Regions from separate parts of the Homo sapiens genome. Here region 2 is linked to region 1. Evidence: fine-mapped expression QTL. Tissue or cell type: skeletal muscle. Region 1 holds a variant in brackets; the other region holds the start of a gene. All regions are shown on one strand. Distances are from middle to middle.

What was found. PIP is the estimated chance that this variant, and not a neighbour inherited with it, causes the effect.
Region 2: it holds the start of EEFSEC, and the variant in region 1 is fine-mapped to the expression of EEFSEC in skeletal muscle (GTEx, PIP 0.93).

Annotation. Positions count from the first base shown.
Region 1 is chr3:128,257,686-128,265,950 of GRCh38, forward strand. It overlaps EEFSEC (eukaryotic elongation factor, selenocysteine-tRNA specific), which reads left to right. Exons shown (of 7, transcript NM_021937.5): 3 at 4,443-4,539; 4 at 6,932-7,096. Among named protein-coding and RNA genes, the nearest start is that of EEFSEC, 110 kb to the left of the region's middle. The variant C/T (reference allele first, on the strand shown) is at 4,467.
Region 2 is chr3:128,150,473-128,158,472 of GRCh38, forward strand. EEFSEC (eukaryotic elongation factor, selenocysteine-tRNA specific) reads left to right here and starts at 3,009. Exons shown (of 7, transcript NM_021937.5): 1 at 3,009-3,351. The coding sequence starts at 3,036. It also overlaps a transcript of RUVBL1 not described here. RefSeq lists an enhancer at 2,640-2,869 and a silencer at 3,000-3,519.

The DNA of each region.
Region 1 (8,265 bases):
TCATAATACTAAATTAAATTATGTTGTTACAGTGAAGCTTATAACGGGCATTACCAACTTTACAGCATAACCAGGTTCAGCATAAAGGTCAGGAGGCAAAAGTGCAGGAAGTACTCACCTCTTGAGCGTGGCCTGTGCGCGTCAAGCTGTCCCCCCCCAGCATGGAGGTTTGGCATGCTAGGAGCCAGGAGCAGGTTTTGCAGAGGGAGTGCAGAGCGTTGCCTCATGGATGTCCTTAAAGTGACCAGTGGTGGGAGGGCTTCTACTCTACCTTTTATTTGTGGAATGTGGTGGTTTTCCATTTAGATAGTGGCATGAAATTGCGTTTTAAAATAAATATATTTAAGTAAGAACATTAATTCTTTTAAGGAAAATAAATGAGCAAATAGCTTAGATGGCACACAAATTTGACAAAGCTTGTGAAGAGGATGTGGGACAATTGGTCTATGTGCAGGTCAACCCTGAGAGAGGAGGAGGAAGGGAGGGAGCAGAGCGACCTTGATGTTTTGTCATCCCCTCTTTGTGCCCAGGCTGGCACTGGGCTCAATCTTCTGCTTTTGTGTTTTGAAAGACCATTGATGCCATCTTCCAGGTCAGTGTCCCTGGGGAGTGGATGCTGGAGGTCATTCTGGGGATCCCAGCACCGTGGGAAGGACAGGGCTCTGGAATAGGGCTTTTGGGACCAGAGTGCTGAGCTCTGGATTCCTCCTTGCTTCTGCTATTTGCTTCACCTGCGACCCTTTAGCAATCATTTGACCTCTCTGTGCCTCAGTTTCCTCATCTCTAAAATGATAATATAATACCTGACATCATTGCTGTGAGGATTAAATGGAGTCATGTGAAAGCATCTAGCCAGGTGCTGTGTGCATGGTGGGTGCTTCACCAATATTTGGAGAATGAATGTGTGACTCTGAATATGGGAATGATGACAGAAGTTCTTCCTACCTTAGAGGGTTGTTAAGAATTCAATAAATTTATGTCTGCAATTTGAAAGTGATAGCAAACTGTCATAGTATTGGGTACTATAATTATAGCTATCATATCGTTTTTTCGTTGGTTTGAGAACTAAAATTACATATATTTAATGTATGTAATTAAGGGCAAGGGTTTTATTAATCTGGCTACAGGACTTAAATATATGTTCCCTGATCCTTGAAGATCAGCTGCTTTCCAAATTCTCATATGGATTTGAGAAGGGACACATGCCCCTGCCTCCAACCTAGGCTGATGGAGGATTGTTCTCATGATAGTCTCAGGTTTAAAGTAAACTCAGAGTTGGCTTTAAATCACAGCCCCACCACTCATTAGCCTGTGGCCTGGAACAAGCTACCAAAGCTAGCCAAACTTTTAGGACCCTCTTCTATGAAATAGGGGGAGGAAGAATAATACCCACCTTTCAGGATTGTGATGAGAAGATGGGGATTGGAAAGCTTCTAGCACAATTGCTTGTACCATTGGTGCTCGGTAAAAGGTCCTGTCTCTTTCTGCCACTCCCACTGTGTTGCATGCTAGACTATATACAGAGAAGCACTTAGAGCAAGCCTCAGTGTCAGGAAGGTAAGGGTGGCTCTTCCTGGCGGAAACAAACTCCAGAACTAGAAGTGCTACAGAAATGTCTCCTGAAAATACATTGGGTATACAAACAATTGGAAGTGGTTCAATATTGTATGGCTTACTTATTAAGGCAATGCAATACAAATTAAAATGAAGTATATATTAAAAATAATTTTTAAAAGACTATTTTGTTATGTGTGCAGTGAAATAGGCATCTTAGATGTCCATTGTGGTAGTGGAAAAGGTAGCATACCTTTCAATCTATTTTCTCTGTAATTGAGATAGAATTCACATACTATGAAATTCATACTTTCAATGTGGAAAGAATTGTACAGCCATCACCACTATCTAATTCCAGAACATTTTCATTACCCCAACAGGAAATTGTATTCATTAAGCCCTTTGCTCCTCATTCTCTGTGCGCCACCAGCCTGGGAACTACTAATCTCCTTTCTGTTTTATGGACTTACCTATTCTGGTATTTCATATAAATGGAATTGCACAATATGCAACCTTTTGTGTCTGACTTCTTTCACCTAGCACAGTGTTTTTGTGGTTCATCCACACTGAAGTATGTATTGATGCTTCATGTCTTTTTATGTCATGTCTTTTTATGTCACAACAGAATAATATTCTGTTGTGTATATATACACAACATAGTTTGTGTATCCATTCATCTATTGATAGACATTTGAGATGTTTCTACTTTTTGGCTATTGTGAATAGTGCTACTCTGGACATGTATGGATATGTACTTCTTTGAGTATTTGTTTTCTGTTCTTTTTGGATATATATCTAGGAGTGGAATAGCTGGATCATGTGGTGATCCCATGTTTCCCTTCATTTTTGTAACATTTTTTACTGCATATAAAATTCTTGGTTGGTAGATTTTTTTTATTTTTATTTTTAACTTTCACTTCTTTGAATATATTATCCTGATACCTTCTGGCCTCCACGATTTCTCCTGAGAAACCAGCTGCAAATCTTATTATGGATTCCTTGTACATGAGTTCAGTCGCTTCTTTCTTGATGGCTTCAAGATTCTCTTTGTCTTTGGCCTTCAACAGTTAGATTGTAATGTGCCAGGTGTGGGTGTCTTTGAGTTTATCCTATTTAGAGTTTATTGAGATTCTTGAAAGTGTAGATATTTTCCATGAAATTTGAGAAGTTTTTGGCTATTAAATATCACAGCTTCCCTCAGGCAGCTGTGATGTTAAACAATTGCCTCTGATTATTTTCAACAAACTCCCCCAGGGAAAAGGCTATTTGCACTAAGCAAGCTCCAAGGCAGGTCAAATAAATATAGCATTGTGAGTAGGGCCTTCCAGGGAGCCACCAGACTGGAAAATCATGATCGTTCTCTGGAAGAAGGGCTTTGAAGGAGCTCAAACCCATTCTGCCCCTTTCAGTGCCTGGCATGCTACTGGTTTTCACCATGATTGGTTTTCAGGACAGCTGCAGAGTTAGCATAGGAAGAGGGCAAGTTAAAACATCAAAAGCTCACTTGGTTTTACTGAGACTCTTCTTGAATAAACACTCCACAGATTGCTCAAGCCTTTGGTTAATTTCCAGAGTTCTGAACAAGTTGATTCTGATCATTTTTGCCAGTGTTCTTTGTTTCCATGGAAGAGGGCTTTTCAGATGTCCTTGCTGTATCATTTTGCTGATCTATTAGTGAGTATTCACTCTTAGATGTGTACCCCACGAATTCATCCCACAGCCAAGGCAAAAAAAAAAAAAAAACATTCATGCCCGCTGACATGTTTATCACAGTGTAATTTATAATAGTGAAAAATTTGAAATATCACAAATAAGTAATGGAGGAAAGCATGTACAAGCATGTAAATTCTGGGTCGTACCATTGTCCAGGTGTCAACAATGAAAGAACAGGCCCAGGTGGAGAGAAGTGTGACAAAGAGACTGAGAGCCCTGGCTTCAGACTCAGATGGGCTGGGTTCAAATGTGGCTCTAAGGTTTATAGCCAACAACTTGGAGCAAATCAGTTAGACTCCCTAAGCCTCATTTTCTCATCTATAAGATGGCAACAACTCCATCATGTGTTGTAGATGCTTTCATTTAAACCTCACATTATAGGCTTGGCTCAGCCATGTAAGTTGTTATTGTTGTTGCTGTCATTCAACAGAAAGTTCTTTGTGATATAATGGTAAATAAATTAGCAGGATATGAAATCGTATACATACTATAACCAAAATCTGAAAAAAAGAATCCCTTGGCAAAGCATGGGAAAACCATGGTTGGAAGAAAATACACCAAATGATGGGATTATGGGTTATTTATTTTCTCTTTCCCTCTTTTTTTTTTTTTTTTTTTTGCCCTAACAATGTTCCTTTTTTTAAATGGGAAAGATAAATGTCCACACAGAATAAGTATGTCTTCTTAAAGATGCGGGGGCTTTGCTAGTAGAGTTTAGGCAAGAATGCTCTGCATTAGAAACTGAGATTGTAGAGGCGTGCTTCCAGGTACATCTGCAGATACTTTTTGGTCACTATTATTTCTTGCATCTCTTCAGAAGGCTGAGATGTATTTATTGGTCTTCTTCAAGGAGGTCTTTTATTCAGAAGCCTAGGGGCCAGGATCACTGCTGCCTCCTTAGGGAGTGCTCTGAAAGTGGAGGTTAATATCTAAGAGAGCCCTTTAAAATTCTGATGTCCAATGCAGGGACATTTCCCCCAGACGGGGAAATTTGGGGCCTCCATTGCATCATGTGCCATGTGCTAGTACAGTGGTGCTGTCTTCTAGGCTTGGTTGATGTGGGGAGAGAAGAGGATGCTCACTGCACTTGGTACTGTGCCAGGTGCTTCATGGACGTGCTTTGTGTCCATGTTGCTGATCTCTGTAACTGTGATGGGACTTATTTTCCATTTCAGGTTCCGAGGTGCACCGATTATACC[C/T]GTGGCGGCCAAGCCGGGGGGACCAGAGGCCCCCGAAACTGAAGCTCCACAGGGCATTCCAGAGCTCATTGAGGTACTGTCATCTTGAATCCAGGTTGCCCTTTAGCCCCAGCGCTGCTCAGGCCAGCCCCTTTGTGTCCCTCTCTCCCCTGAGAGAGAAAGAGAGGCAGCCCTAGCAAGAGGACTCAGTTGGTTCCATTAACCTCCCTGTTAACACCTTAGCACAACTCCCCCACCTCCCTCAAAAAGGTAGACCCAAACTAGGACTCCTAAGGTTCACTGAAGCCCATGATTCACCCTCCAGCCATAAACTCTGCAGAGCTCGTCACACCTTGCTGTGCCTCACTTTCTCCTTTCTCTTGTCATACCTACACTCAGACAAAGCAGCTCCCACCCATCTGGAACCCTGGGACCGTGACATCCATTCCAGTCCTTCAGACTGTATCAGCTCCTCCAGTACCCCACCTGGGCTGGGGGCCAGTGAGGCAGGGGTGAAAGACATGAGCCCAACAGCAGGGGCAATGCAGCTTCCATCCTGGGCACCTCCACCAAAGATGGGAGGCTTATCTTCGGAAGCTGTGGGGCTGAGGCCCAGGTTGTTCTTCCTAACTTGTGCTGGTAGTCAGGGAGGGAGCCCAGTCATCCATCAGGAAGGGTGTGTGTGGGTGCTGATGGTGCTGGTACTAAGGAAGGTAGCAGTGAGAATGGAGCCACAGAGTTCCTCCACAGAGTGCTCAGGACAGTTCAGCCGGGTGGAGTAGCAACGTGCATGGCTCTGGGGCTGGACTGTGGTTCAGGGGCTAGCTCCACCACCACTCTCTCTGACCTCAGGCAAATGATCTACTCTTTCTTGCCTCAGTTCCTTCACTTGGAAGATAATAGCACATACCTCGTGGAGTTGTGAGGGTTAAATGAGTTAATGTGTATAATGTGCTCGGTACAGTGCCATGTCAGTGCTTACTGTTACAGTGATGTTGATGTTTACAGGCCAGGCACTGTACTAAGTTCTTTACATACAGGATCATTGACATTCACAAAAACTCAGGGAGGCTGAAATTATTTATCCCCATATACCAACGAAGAGTCTGAGATTCAAAGATGTTAAATAACTTGACCCATGTCTGGCAGCGAGTTACACGGTGGAGCTGGGATTCAGACCCAGGTTGATCGCTGGGGTCAGCTTCACGGCCCCCCTGCACCTGGCTCCGCAGAGCCAAGATGAGATGTGACCACGTACATGCACTGCCACCATTTCTGTGATTTACACGTGCTGATCTTGTCAGCTTAGCAAAACAAATGTTTTCTGGGTGAGGCTTTTGTTACTTTTTCATCAGGCTCCTGAGAGCACTTGTCTGGGAGCCTGGGATAGTTGTTTTTGTTAAAGCGAAATCCTCAAAAATGCTGCTTTGAAAGATGTTTGTATATTCCTTTAAGAAGCCCCTACATAAATCTCAGACCAAGCCTGTTTTGTTTGAATCTCTAGTGTTTTTCCAAAAGAATTGTTATCACAAGACTAAGACTTTGGAACATTCACCACTGAATACTTTTTTGACAGCCTGTTCCCTTACGAAGTGAAAAAGTAGCAAACACAAGGAATCCTAGTCTTTGTTTTCATTTGTTTATTGGTGATGAGCCCTGACAGCATCTCCCGGCACACAGGTGGCATGAGGAGAATCGGCTGGTGAGGCTGAGGCGTGTGGAGTCCGCAGAGAAGGAAGGACCCTGGGAACAATCCTTTCCTCCTCCCTCTCCCCACATCCCCTTGTTTCTTCTTCTTTCACTTGTCATTCTCTCAGGCATGATGCCAGCTACTGGAGATACCTGGCTCTCACAGCCCTATGGGGGAGATAATAAAGAGATGATCACAGGAGAGTGTTAGCTATAGTGATGGGGGCAGGGGAAACGTGGCCATACAGAGAAGCCTGTCCAGAGGAGGTATTGCTGCAGTACAGGCGAGGCTCAGCCAGCTGGTAAAACTCTAGGCCTGCTGGCGGCTGGCTTCTGGCATACGTCAGGGAGTGGCGGAAGATGAGGCCTAAAAGGTACCTAGGGGCTAGATGATGAGGAGTTTTAAATTCTGAAGGCATCAGGAGGCTGGGGAAATGCATGAGGCCAGGGAGCAATGCGACAGGGTGTCCTTTAGTGGCTACTCTCCTGCAGCATGGAGGGCCTGGCAGGACAGACCATTGTAGCAGTCCCACGGGAGAAGACAGACGAGGCTTCTCCAGGTGCCCTTTCCTTCAGACTGAGCGGAAAGAGCTGAGAGCATGGCAGAAGCTTGGAATGCAGTCAGGGAGTTAGGTGGTTTTGATCTCCTGTCCACCTTGCCAGGGCATGGACCTCTGAGCTGAGTTCACCTTGGCAGCCTTGATGAACTGCTGGTCAGCCACATTCTCTGCCTTCCTCTGCCCTGCCCCATCTGGCTCCTCTCCCCACGGACTGTGGCACCAGTTTCTCTTTTCTAGCTCCTGACGTCCCAGATTTCCATCCCAACGAGAGATCCCTCGGGACCGTTCCTCATGTCTGTGGACCACTGTTTCTCCATCAAAGGCCAAGGCACTGTGATGACAGGGACCATCCTTTCAGGCTCCATCAGCCTCGGTGACAGTGTGGAGATCCCTGCCCTCAAGGTCAGTCTTACCTTGTCTTCCCTTCTGGCCTCCTCGCTGGCAGCAAGGGAGGGGGACTGTCCCTTTGTCTGTTCAGCTGCTGAGCCTGCTGCTGTGCCTGCCCTGGGACTCCCACTGCCTGCTCCGCCCCACCTCCCCTCTGGCTGCCTGGCCCCGCCCGGCTCCAAGTCTTTCAACTCAGATTCTAGGACTGCTGCTCTCCCTAATTCTCATAGCGCCTGTTTATTGGAGGCCTATGATGTGCCTCAAGGAGGTGTTCCCAAGTAGGTCTTCTGTGTAGATAAAGAAACTGAGGCTCCAGAAGGTGAGGTGGGCTTGAGATCACATGGTTAACAAGTGGGGCTGCTGGAGGGGAAACCTCCCTTTCTGGACGCTGTACGTCAGGGTGGCAAGTATGTGTGGAGTTATTTCTGGGTACCTTTTTCTTAACCACAGTAATTTCAAATTAAACATGACGTGAATCTTATGATGCTCAGAATCACAGAATCTGGAAGAAATCCAGGTTGGTTTTGCACTCCTGGTGGCCATCGACAGATGCCGCATTATTCTTCTGAAGACCTGTGAGAAGGATGAGTGGTTGGTGCCTTCCCATCACCCCTCCTTCTACTATGATGGCCTGGCTCTGATTTAAAAGATAGTGCCTTGATATTCCCCTTATTTAGAAGGCATTTTTAATAGTTTTACTTTATGCGACAAGAGAAACTTACAGCCTCATTGACTGCCCTCCCCTTCAACAAGAATAAAAGGTAGGGAACACATGCTACTTAGAATTCATGTGAGACCTTGCCTGGAATGCTGGGGTCCAGGGCAGTTCTCTAATCCTTGAAGGAGCCTACAGTGCAGGGAAGTGGAGGTGCTCAGCCCTGTGGACTCAGCTAGCTGCTAGAGAGGCTTGGATGTGCATGATTTCAATTTGCATGTTAATTGGGAATGGCTACCTGGAGGCTGTATTGAGGCATTTTAAGGTTGTCTGGCTCACTAGGTGTGTTGGTTAAGGTTCTCCGGAGAAACAGAACCAATGGGAGATACAGATATCTAGGTATCTATAGATACATAGGTAAAGATACATAGATGTAAATATGTAGATATCTGTATCTCCTATTAGTTTTGTTTTGCTGGAGAACACCAACTAATGCACCTAGTATTAGATGCAGATAGATAAATAGATA
Region 2 (8,000 bases), 110 kb before region 1:
ATATATTCCATTATATATATATATATGTATGTTCCATTGTATGGAATATACATCCATATGTATATATGTATGTTCCATATGTATATATGTATATTCCATATATATATTCCACAGAATATATATATTTGACAGAACTAATAGAATATATATTCTATGTATATATTCTATACATATATTCTATACATATTCTATACATATATTCTATATATATTCTATATATTATATATTCTATATATATTCTATATATTATATATTCTATATATATTCTATATTATATATTCTCTATATATTCTATATATTATATATTCTATATATATTCTATATATTATATATTCTATATATTATATATTCTATATATTATATATTCTATATATATTCTATATATTATATATTATATATATATATTCTATATATATATTCTATATATATAATATAATATTCTATATTATATATATAATATATTCTATATATTATATATATTATATATTCTATATATTATATATTATATATTCTATATATATTATATATATTATATTATATATTATATATATAATATATATTCTATATTCTATATATTCTATATATATTATATGTTCTCTATATATTCTCTATATATCTATATATTCTATATATATTCTGTATATATTCTATATATATTCTATATATATTCTATATATTCTATATATATTCTATATATACTCTATATACATTCTATATATACTCTATATATTCTATATATACACTGTATATATTCTATATATATATACTCTATATATCTATATATAAAATCTATATATATTCTATATATAGATATATAAACTATATCAAGTGATCTGCCTGCCTCAGCCTCCCAAAGTGCTGGGATTACAGGCATGAACCACCGTGCCCAGCCAAACCTTTTTTCTTTTCATTACCATTTCAGGATTCTGTTTAAAACAGAGGTAAGAAATGAGGTTTATTTGAAGCCAGGCCCTGTACAAAGTCTTTGTTAGTTGAAATATTTCTCAGAGGTACATAAAGCCTCTAAAGCTCTTATTACCTATTTACTAACCCTCCCTTTTAAATACGTTTACTGCTTTTACTACTAGATTTTTTTTAATGGGAGGCGTATTTTTACAGTTTCCTATTTGCAAGGTGGGAAAACGGAAACAAAGATTCTGTTCTCTTCTTGTAAGGACCCTAATCCCATCACAAGGGCCCGCTCTCATGATCTCATCTAACCTCCCAAACGTCCCATCTCCAAATACTATCACACTGGGGGTCAGGGTGTCCACATATGAATTTGAGAGGGACACAATTCAGTCTATGACATGGACTCTGTTCCTAGTGGAGAGTGGTGGAACGAAGGAGGCAGTTACTGCAAGCATGAATACATCCGCACATGGTCTGGCTCATCACAGAGGGCAAAGGTAAGATCCTGTGAACTTTGTGCTCCACCGCCACAGTGTTACAAAAACACTCTCTTCTCCAGAAAAATGGAAGGAGGAGGCAATGTTGGGCTAGCATTCCTGCCTGGTATCACTGGCTGAGACTGAGCAGTGGCTTCCCTCTTTGCACAGGAAAAGGGCTCTCCAGGTCTCCCAGGTCCCCACCACTCCCTGTCATCTTAGACTCTTTTAACTTCTCTTCTTTGATTTACCCACCACCTGGCCAGAGCAGACACTTAGGTTTGTTACCTCTGGTTGGTGACTATGGCTGACAACCTTTTTTGTGGTTCTAGACACTTCAGAATCTAGTGAGAGTTGTCGACCCTCTGTCTAGCAAGAGCACATCACAACACATTGTGCGTTCAATTTAGAGGTTTGTGGCCTCTCCTAAGCCCAGGCTACAGACTCTCAGGGTGAGAATTTCTGAGTCAGAGATAATGTTGTCCTCTTCCATCTTCAAACCATCTTTTCCCATGGTTGGCTCCTTCTCAACACTGGAGTTTCAACTCAAACAGCAACTCCTAGATGTCTTCCCTGACCCACAGTTAGGTAGCTGTCCATCCTCCCTCTCCTGCTCCTTTTTATCTCAGCTTTTATTTTCCCTAGGAGACTTCTCGCTCTCTGAAATGGTCTGGTTCAGGCTGTATTGTTTGACTTAGCCCTCACCCCCTGAATGTAATATTAGCGGGCACTGTAGCCCAGCGGAACCCACCAGGCACTTGGTAAGATCTTGCTGAAATGTATGAATGATTGGAAGTGTGTCCGGAGTTGGTTTCTTCCAGTGGGTTCCTAGTCTCGCTGACTTCAAGAATGGAGCCGCGGACCTTCGCAGTGAGTGTTAAAGCTCTTAAAGATGGCACAGTCCCAAAGAGTGAGCAGCAGCAAGATTTATTGTGAAGAGCAAAAAGCTTCTGCAATGCGAAAGGGCACCTGAGAGGGTTGCTGCTGCTGGCGGGGGTGGCCAGCTTTTATTCCCTTATTTGCCCCCTCCCCCACGTCCCCCCGCCCTCCCCCGCCCCCCGCCGTCCCCCCGCCCTCCCCCCCGCCCCCGTCTTCCCGCCCCCCCCGCCCCCGTCTTCCCCCCGCCCACCCCGCCCCCCCCGCCCCCCTTCGCCCCCCCATGTTCCGTTTTTGTCCTATCAGAGCGCCCTTTTTTCAATCCTCCCTGTGATTGGCTTCTTTTAGGATCCTGCTGATTGGTGCATGTTACAGAGCACTGATTGGTGCGTTTTACAGAGCGCTGATTGGTGCATTTTACAATCCTCTTGATAGCTATAGAAAAGTTCTCCAAGTCTCCACTCACCCAGAAAGTCCAAATGGCTTCACTTCTCAGAAGGATCCCTCCATCTCGGGCTCCTAGAGGCTTCAGGCAGGAGGAGCCACGTGAGAGAGAAACCCTGCCTACGGTGACCTCCAGTTCCTAGACCACCCACTCGGAGCACGGCGCTCGGCTGTGCCCGTGAGCCTCAGGAGGGCGGAAGCTTCCGGGCCGGAACGGGTGTGCACAGCGCGCCGGTTACGGGGGGGCAACTTAACGGGCCGGACCGCGGCGACTACCGAGGGAGGTGAGGGGCGGGCCGGGCGGGTGTCCGAGGCGGCGGCGGCGGCATGGCAGGGCGGCGGGTGAACGTGAACGTGGGCGTGCTGGGCCACATCGACAGCGGCAAGACGGCGCTGGCGCGGGCGCTAAGCACCACAGCCTCCACCGCCGCCTTTGACAAGCAGCCGCAGAGCCGCGAGCGCGGCATCACGCTCGATCTGGGCTTCTCGTGCTTCTCGGTGCCGCTGCCCGCGCGCCTGCGGTCGTCTTTGCCCGAGTTCCAGGCAGCGCCCGAGGCCGAGCCCGAGCCCGGCGAGCCACTGCTTCAGGTCACGCTGGTCGACTGCCCCGGGCACGCCTCCCTCATCCGGACCATCATCGGCGGTGAGCGCGGGCCGGGGCGGGAGCCGGGCTCAGGGACGCGGGCGGAGCGACCGGGCCCCGTGTCCGAATTCGCTCGAGCCTTTGCCGGGACGGGAAATCGCCCCACCTCATTGGTGGGGCTCCTGACGCCCCAAGAGGCGGACGTGACTTGCCTAGGGCTCCGCAGCAAGTGAGCGGAGGCTTTGAGATTCAGCTTTTCCCATCCAGCAGAACCGAGCTGCAAGGCGCCTTCCTTAAAAAAAAAAAAAAAAAAAAATCAAAAAATCCCTACCAAATGTGTTTATAATACATGGTCAAGTAAAGAAAACTCAAAATAAGAAAACTCACAAGCTACAAAAAGGGTATACATACAAAGGCTGTCTTCATTCACCTGTCATTTGGTCTGATTCCCGTTCCTAGAGCCAACCGCTGCTACCAGTTTTTGTATATCATTTCAGAAAGGCTCCACGTCAATACAAGCATATCTGTGTGTATGTATAAATCCCTCTTTCCCTCATCCTTTTAGACACGATTTCACTCAACATTGTGTCTGGAGAGTGCCCCATATCTGTACACAAAGCTACATCATTCTTTTTAAAGCTCACATAGAATTCAACTGCACCCTTGTACCAACATTTTCTTTTTCTTTTTTTTTTTTTCTTTTTGAGACAGAGTCTTGTTCTGTCGCCCAGCCTGGAGTGCAGTGGCACGATCTCGGCTCACTGCAACTTCCGCCTCCTGGGTTCAAGCGATTGTCCTGCCTCAGTCTCCTGAGTAGCTGGGATTACAGGCGCGCGCCACCACGCCCGGCTAATTTTTTTGTATTTTCAGTAGAGACGGGTTTCACCATGTTGGTCAGGCTGGTCTCAAACTCCTGACTTCATGACCCGCCCGCCCTGGCCTCCCAAAGTCCTGGGATTACAGGCGTGAGCCACCACGTCCGGCCTGTACCAACATTTTCTGAACAAATCTTTTAATGATGGACGTTTATGCTGTTTCCAGTATTTACAAACCATTTTGCAGTGAATATTCTAGAACAGAACTCTTTGGTATGTTCGCATATATGTAGGATAATAGATAATAACTGGCTGGGGCAAGGGGCATGTGTGTTTTCGGTCGTGGTGGGTACTGCCAAAATGCCCCACAAAGAGGTACCATTAATTTTTAATTATACATGTAATACATGAATACATGCTACTTGTGAAGAAATAGAACATCACAAATAAGACAAACATTCCCTTACCCACTCCTCTGTCCTAAATTCTGTACCCCTCCTATCTCTGCAAATGAAAAGACCCGTTTTTTGTTTTTTTGTTTTTTTGTTTTTTTCTGAGATGGAGTCTCGCTCTGTTACCAGGCTGGAGTGCAGTGGTGCAATCTTGGCTCACTGCAACCTCTTTCTCCCCGGTTCAAGCGATTCTCCTGCCTCAGCCTCCCAAGTAGCTGGGACTACAGGTGCACATCACCACACCTGGCTAATTTTTATATTTTTAGTAGACATGGGGTTTCACCATATTGGCCAGGATGGTCTTGATCTCGACCTCGTGATCCCCATGCCTCGGCCTCCCAAAGTGCTGGGATTACAGGTGTGAGCCACTGTGCCTGGCTGAAAAGACCATTATTATACCTTTGTGGATTACTTTTCCAGACCCATTTAACTCCACTTAAATATATGGATAGAGTTTTAAAACATGTTTTGTTTTTAGAAAAAATGATACAATAATATAAACACATGGTATAAAAGGGTATATAGCTAAAGAAGTATACTTCTCACTGCTGACCCCAGTACCTGATTACCTTTCTGTTCCCATTTTCTTGTGTTTCCTTCCAGCAATATTCTGTATGCCACACATGGGAATATATATTGGGCAGATGATAATTGGCTTGGTGGCAGATGGCCTCATTGGTCACTGGGCATTCTGGGTCCCAGCTATAATGGTGAGCTTGTTAAGTACAGTACTTCATCTTTGTTACCTCCCAACTGTTTCATGTTACAGGCAGTCTGAGATCATTTCCCCATTTTACAGTAGAGGAAATAGAAGTTTGAAGAAGTGAAGGGACTTGCTCAGGGTCACACTATCTAAAGTCTTCTCCTCAATCCATGTTTCAGTCAGGTGAATTTCAAGGGGCACACAATTCTCTACCCATTCCTCCCTGCCCCCTTATAACTGAATTCTGTTTGGTCACATCAAAGTACATTTTAGAACATGGACTCTGAGCCAGTCCAGACTGGAGGTGGAAGGCAGAGGTTAAAAAATGAGATGGCGAGTTTTTAGTGTTGTCTAGTAAATAGGGTAGATGAGTGGTGAAGGACATACTTTTGGAGTCAGACAAAACTGGGCTTGAAGCCTAGCTTGCTTTCTTCCTTAGCTGTATGACGTTTGAACCTAATTCTGGACCTTGCTCCAACTGGAAGATAGTGGTAACCACACAACTATTTATTGGCTTGACTTTTCTTGTGTATTTGCTGCTTACCAGGCAAACCCTGCAAGGAGCGTGGTGGTTACCATTTAATAGTTGAGAAAATTGGGACTTAGGGAGGCAGGTAGTTAGTGAAACAGTCCAGGTCTGCCTGACTCCAAAGCTGGAGTCCTTTGCATGCTTCCCCAGGTTACCCTATAGTTCCCTCATCCGCTTCCAACATACGTGCATACCTCATGTTATTGTGCTTCACTTGATTGTACTTTGCAGATAGTGGTTTTTACAAATCGAAGGTTCAAGGCAACCCATCCAACAGCATTGCTTACTTTGTGTCTCTATGCCACATTTGGGTTATTCTTAACAATATTTCAAACTTTTCATCAAATATTAAGCATCAAACATTTCACTTCATTTCAAACACATGTCATCTGTTAATGGTGATCTGGGATCAGTGATCTTTGATGTTACTATTGTAATTTTGAAATGTCACAAACAATGCTTATGTAAGGCAGCAAACTTAATAAATGTTGTGTGTTTTCTGACTGTTCTACCTACTGGCTTTTTCCCTGTCTGTCTCCCTCTCCTCAGGCCTCCCTATTCCCTGAGACACAACAATATTAAAATTCATCCAGCTAATAGCCTTTATGCGTTCAAGGGAAAGGAAGAGTTGCAAGTCTCTCACTTTAAATCAAAAGTTAGAAATGATTAAGCTTAGTGATGAAGGCAATGTTGAAGACTGAGATAGGCTGAAAGCAAGGCCTCTTACACCACACCAAACAGCAAAGTTTTGGACGCAAAGGAAAAGTTCCTGAAGGAAATTAAAAGTGCTACTGTAGTGAACACACAGATGATAAGAAAGCAAGACAGCTTTATTGCTTTATAGAGAAAGTTTTAGTGGTCTGGATAGAAAATCAAACCAGCTACCACATTCCCTTAAGTGGAAGCCTAATCCAGAGCAAGGCCCTAACTCTTCAATTCTATGAAGGCTGAGAGAGGTAAGGAAGCTGCAGAAGAAAAGTTTGAAGCTAGCAGAAGTTGGTTCATGAGGTTTGAGGAAAGAGGCCATCTCCAGAACATAAATGTACAAGATGAAACAACAAATGGTGATAGAGAAGCTGCAGCAAGTTATCCAGGAGATCTAGCTAAGATCATTGATGAAGGTGAGTACACTAAACAGATTTTCACTGTAGATGGAACAGCCTTATATGGAGAAGATGCTATGTAGGACTTTCATAGCTACAGAGAAGTCAATGACTGGGTACAAAGCTTCAAAGGACAGGCTGACTCTTGTTAGGGGCTAATGCAGCTGAAGCCATTGCTCATTGACCATTCCAAAAATCCTAGGGCCCTTAAGAATTATGCTAAATCTATTCAGCCTGTGCTCTTGAAATGGCACAACGCAGCCTGGATGACAGCACATCTGTTTATAGCATGGTTTACTGAATATTTTAAGCCCACTGTTGAGACCTACTGCTTAGAAAAAATACTCCTTTCAAAATATTACTGATTGTTGATAATGCACCTGGTCACCTAATGGCTCTGATGGAGATGTACAAAGAGATTAATTTGTTATCATGCTTGCTAACACAGCATCCATTCTGCAGTGTATGGGTCAAGGAGTAATTTTGACTTTCAGGTCTTATTATTTAAGAAATATATTTCATAAGGCCATAGCTGCCCAAGATAATAATTCCTCTGATGGATCTGGACAAAGTAAATTGAAAACCTTCTGGAAAGGATTTATCATTCTAGATGCCATAAAGAACATTTGTGATTCATGGGAGGAGGTAAAAATATCAACAGTAACAATAATTTGGAAGAGGTTGATTCCAACCCTCATGGATGACTGAGGGGTTCAAGACTTCAGTGGAGCAAGTCACTGCAGATGTGGTAGAAATAGCAAGAGAGTTAGAATGAGAAGTGGTGCCTGAGGATATGACTGAATTGCTACAATCTCATGATCAATCTTGAGTGGATGAGGAGTTGCTTCTTGTGCATGAGCAAAGAAAGTAGTTTCTTGAGATGGAACCTACTCCTGGTGAAGATGCTGTAAACATTGTTGAAATGACAACAAAGGATTTAGAATATTACATAAACTTAGTTGATAAAGCAGTGGCAAGATTTGAGAGGACTGACTCCAGTTTTGAAAGCAATTCTGTGAGTAAAATGCCATCAAACAGCTTCACATGCTACAGATAAATTTTTGTAAAAGGAAGAGTCACCTGATGTGGCAAACTTCATTGTCTTAT